Linked DNA regions of Homo sapiens: region 2 is linked to region 1. The links come from fine-mapping of genetic effects on gene expression. Tissue or cell type: whole blood. Region 1 holds a variant in brackets; the other region holds the start of a gene. All regions are shown on one strand. Distances are from middle to middle.

Region 1 (2,755 bases):
AGCATCGCTTGAGGCCAGGAGCTCACGACCAGGCTGGGCAACAAAGTGAGACCCCCATCTCTCCCAAGAAGTAAAAAAAAAATTAGCCAGATATGGTGGTGCATGCCTGTAGTCCCAGATACTTGGGAGGGTGAGGCAGGAAGATCACTTGAGCCTGGGAGGTTGAGGCCGCAGTGAGCCATGATTGCGCCAGTGCACTCCAGCCTGGGCAACAGAGGGAGGTTCCATCTCAAAAAGAAAAAAATATATATCCAGTGTGGCCAAGATATTTTAGGGTGAGGAGAAGGATCAGGAAGCCTCCTGGCCAGACTTTCAGCCTGCAATCCTATCCTCAGTATCTGAGACTACCAAATCCTCAACAAGAAACAAAAACTGAGGGTCCAAACGATGAAAAACAAACCGTAAAGAACGAATTACCCACGTGAATAAACTTTGAAGGCGTTGCGCTAAGGGAAATGAGCTAGTCACAAAGGACGACTACTCTCTCTACGATTCCACTCATATGAGGTACTACGAATAGTCAAATTCAGAGACAGCAGAACGGTGGCCACCAGTGGCTGGCAGGGCAGGATGGGGCGTTAGTGTTCAATGGGGACAGAGTTTCAGTTGGGAAAGAAAGAAAGTTTCTGTAGATGAATGGTGGTGATGGTGGCACAAAAATGTGAGTGCACTTAATGGCACAGAACTGTTCACTTGAGCATTTTAAAATTGTTATTTTTTTAGAGACAGGTTCTTGCTCTGTCACACAGGCTGGAGGGCAGCGGTGTGATCAGAGCTCACTATAGCATTGAACTCCTAGGCTCAAGTGATCTTCCTGCCTCGGCCTCCCAAGGAGCTGGAACTACTTGCCCAGTGTGCCACGATGCCCAGATAATTAAAAAAAAAAAAACCTTTTATTTTTATTTTTATTTTTTTAGAGATGAAGTTGCTATGTTGGCCAAGCTGGTTTCAAACTCCTGGCCTCCAATGATCCTCCCATCTCAGCCTCCCAAAGCTTGGGATTACAGGTGTCAGCCACTGTGCCCAGGCCTACTTAAAAATCGTTAAAATAGTATATGTTATTTTATACATATTTTACCACAATTTTAAAAATAAAAGAGTTACCCTCCCAGTTGACTGACAATCCTGGTATGCCTAAAACCTTTCACTAGACATTTAACCAGTCTTACTACCTCCTCCTGATCTTCAACTAAACCCTCCTCTGTCTTTTTCCTGTAAATTTTCTGCCAACACTGTGAAATACAACTTTGATACACACTTACATATGTTTTAAAAACACCTAATAACAACAACAGAACTAAACTAAAAATAACAGACAACTCCCATGTGCTGGAGGCAGTGAATCTCAGGTTTCCTTCACACAAAGCGGAAATGGCCAGTAAACCCACTTTGTTTCCCCACTGGCCAAGGGAGAAAAGCCGCACTGCAGACACCCACCCGACCCTTCGACCTCCAGACAGACACAGTGCTTTCTAACAAAACAAAAACAAACGAAAAACAACCCAACGGCTTAAAACCACAAA[A/G]GAAACCTTTACCCAATCCAAGCGACCCCTTGCTTCCGTTTGGGCAGATGGCATTTCACCACTTTTTGACCTTTCAACCAGTACCCTTGCTGAATTTCTTTCCAAAGCCAGAGTCATAATACGTGAGAGCGAGCATTTCTCAAGTGCTGGGCTTCAGGGAGGGCCCTGGTCTTTGGACGGTGAACAGAACTGGGGCAGAGGGAGTCCTATCTCGAGGAGATGACGCTGCTGCCCTACAGTAGCCAGCGCTGCTTTTGTAACTCTAGCGATGGCCCAATCTCTGATTGCCCCCACTCTGATCAGCCCTCTTTATTTTAGTCTCGCCTTTGAAATAAGTCTGGGTGACAGCCAAGATGTCCAGTGGCCAAGTCATGCTATGCCACTTCTACCAATGAGATGGTCCCTCCAGCCTCAGCCAGCAGAGACTGTCCTCTGGACCTAGAGCCCCACGAGTGGTGCCACGAGAGCAGCACCTGGGGCCCCACGACCTGGAAGTGTAATTAGTTTCAGACTCAGATAGAGAAATGGAAAGTCCTGATATTGATTGGAAAGCCTAGTTATAATATTCCTAATCTGGCTTGATCCTTGTCTAAAAAGACCTTTTATTTTAGTTGTAGCTTATTTGCCTGGCAAACAGGAGCTCTGGTTTAGGGAGGAGGAATGGGAATGGGGAGAAGTAGGCTATTATAATAATTGAGTACAATTTGAATCCTTTACACATTATGGCTTTTTCGTTTTTTTTTGTTTTTGAGATAGTCTCGCTCTGTCACCCAGGCAGGAGTGTAATGGTGTGATCTTGGCTCACTGCAACCTCCACCTCCTGGGCTCAAGCGATTCTCCTGCCTCAGCCTCCTGATCAGCTGGGACTACAGGCACCTGCCACCATGCCAGGCTATTTTTTTTGTATTTTTAGTAGAGACAGGGTTTCACTATATTGGCCAGGCTGGTCTCAAACTCCTGACCTCATGATCCACCCGTGTCGGCCTCCCAAAGTGCTGGGATTACAGGCGTGAGCCACCGCAATCGGCCCCACATTATGTTTTTAATCACCCTCAAATAGATGCTAATAAGTTGTCAGAAACATCATGAGCTGTTGCTGGGATACAGCCCTTTCACAGCCCAAAGAGCCCCTTGACACATCTTGTTTTTTTCTGGTGAAAAAATAAGAGGACTCATTTTAGTTAGACTCATTCACAAAAACCAGGCGGGCTCATTCTAGAGTCATATGGCCT
Region 2 (2,500 bases), 22 kb after region 1:
CCTGGGAACATAGAAGTCATTATTATTATGTCTTTCACAAATTATGTAAACTTAAAAAAATTATATTTTCAATGTAAACCACTCCTTGGAGGAAATTAGTTCCTTTAACATTTATTTCCTAATTTTAATTTCTACTAGTTTTATCTCTTTCAAGCTTAAATGAGTGGGCCTTAGTTCTGTATTATTGCCATCTTAATCATGTTCTTTGTGATTTTAGTAGCTTTACTTTTTAAAACTTACATTTCCATAATGAAGACTTCTGTATTTTTGTTTTTTTCGTCATATATCCGACTCCAGCTCCCTCAAGACCTGTCAGCTTTTCCCTGCACCCTTTGTTATCTCTTGCTGTGGTCCAAAGGTAAGGACAGTAAGCCGTGGGCACAGACTTTCCCTAAATCGTATGGATTTCCTTTAGTCAATAACAAGAATTTTGATAGTTAAGGCATTTACGCCTTAAGAATGTGATAAATTCCCCCTCCTACTGAATGTAAAGAACTATTTTTCTACGCAGACTAACTCTTATATTCACTTTTCTTATAGAATAAGTACGTAACCAAATCTGTTCTTGGCTTCTAAGAAGTTAGAACTCAACGTAAAGATGACTTGTGGAAAATTACTTACTCATTCTGGGTAAATGGACGCAGGTATTTAGTGCTTAAGTAGGTTCTGATATACCATTACATTAACATCATTTTAAAAATCGCTCTGAATTATATGTATTTTAAGAGTGACTGGGTTTTAAAAAAAATAGAAGTGGTAGAGCATAAATCATAATCTTTAATAAGGTAATAAAAGGCAAACACTATTGCTCTGGGCAAAACTGGGCTAATGCTTTTGGATTTCTTTCCGCAGTCTTCACAGACGACGCTCAGCATCCTATCAGCCCTTGGCAGAGACACACGATCCAGCCTAAATCCTCAAATTCTGGCTCTTGCCCAAAGTGTGTAGCCAGTATCCATAGAGACTGCGAAAAGCATCCGCGAGCCGGGGCGGCCCCCTCCTCCTCAGCTCCAAATTGCTTCCTTTTTCGGTGGGAGAAAAAACTCCGAGGAGTTGTGTGAGCGCCTAAGGAGCGCACGCTCCTCCGGCCCTCAACACCCAGTATAGTTTTCGCTAAGTTCCTGGCCGAACCACAGCTCCCACGATGCACCCAGGTTTTAGAGCGGTCAGAGGGGCGGCTTCCGGTTTAGGACAGCGCGGCTGCGCACGGCGTGTGGTCTTATTGGCTCGAACCGCCTCGTGCGATGCGCGTCACGGCGACGTGCGGTCGTGGGGGCGGGGAGACGCGGCGGCGGCGGTCGCTGTCGCGGCGGCGAGAGCGCGATTCCAGAAGCGGCATCGCGGCGGCGGCAGCGGCGGCGGCTACACCGGGCTTGGCCCCCTCCCTCCTCCGTTCCCCCCTCCTCCCCCCTCCCCTCAGCGGTGGCTCCCAAGAAGTCCGAGACACGCGGTGAGGCGGCGACGGGCTCCGGGTGAGGGTCTCTGGAGTGTGGGCGCCGTTTCCTGGGCGCAGAGGGAGAGCTTGGGGTCGGGGGGAGGTGAGAGCTGAGGGGCGAATGTCCCTGGCGCGGGCGGGAGAGCGCGCTCTCGGCCCGGCCCGCAACTTGATTCCTAACTCTGACCTGCCGCCCGGCGCGCCTTGGCCTGAGGGTCGGCCGTGTGGGGACCTGGAGCCGCCCTCCTTGCGACCGCTGTCGGAGGAGTCCGGCGCCCGCTGTTCCCCTCGCCTCGCCTTTCGCGGCGGAGGGTCGGAGCCTGCTGCCCTCTGCTCACCTTCGGGTGCAGTTGCTCCAGCTCCCTGCCCGCGGAGAGGATCTGCCCGCCCCTCTTCGTCTCTTGTCTGTTTTTATCACTTCTAGGAATTTGTTTGGTGGAGGCTTGGGATGGGCTCTCTCAGCGCTACTTTCACAGTGACTGGGGTGGGGAAGAGTTCCCTCACCTTTTTCAGGTGGCGCGTCAGGCAGCCTGCTTGGTACCTGGAGTCCTGTTTTCCCAAGCCCCCGTCCGTCAGTGTTCGCTTCTTCTAAAATTACCGATGACAGGGTTATAAATCAGTTTTTAGGGGGCTCGGAGAGAGTTTGGGTTGGAAACTGTTAGCTCTTTTTTCCTCCTGGCTTTTGATCTTGATTTAAGCGTTTGCCTCTGAAATTTTGACAACTTCATAAGATGGTCCAAAAGTGAATTTTGGTAGAAAGATTTAAATGCACAGTTGGGATTTTATGGGGGTACGGTGACTTCATTGCAGGTTGTTGACTTTTTTTTTAAAATAAGATGTTCTTTTAATTTTTTGACTCTGGGTTTCTGAGCCTTGGTTATTGTCCCCCATTTCTGTTCCAAAAGCAGACTTTTTTTTTTTTTATCACCCCTTCCCCTCACCCAGAGAATCCCTTTAAACGCCAAGAAAGCTGTCATAACATTTAGCATTATTTGATCACAGAACTTTTCCAAATGAAATGCTAAAAATTCCTTCAGAAAAAAGCATCCATCTACCCATAGCATT

What was found. PIP is the estimated chance that this variant, and not a neighbour inherited with it, causes the effect.
Region 2: it holds the start of ADIPOR2, and the variant in region 1 is fine-mapped to the expression of ADIPOR2 in whole blood (TOPMed, PIP above 0.99).

The regions. Positions count from the first base shown.
Region 1 is chr12:1,667,445-1,670,199 of GRCh38, forward strand. No RefSeq gene overlaps it. Among named protein-coding and RNA genes, the nearest start is that of MIR3649, 8.4 kb to the left of the region's middle. RefSeq lists an enhancer at 1,670-1,719. The variant A/G (reference allele first, on the strand shown) is at 1,524.
Region 2 is chr12:1,689,742-1,692,241 of GRCh38, forward strand. ADIPOR2 (adiponectin receptor 2) reads left to right here and starts at 1,329. Exons shown (of 8, transcript NM_024551.3): 1 at 1,329-1,450. RefSeq lists enhancers at 832-991, 1,012-1,061, 1,145-1,723 and silencers at 1,222-1,521, 1,542-1,631.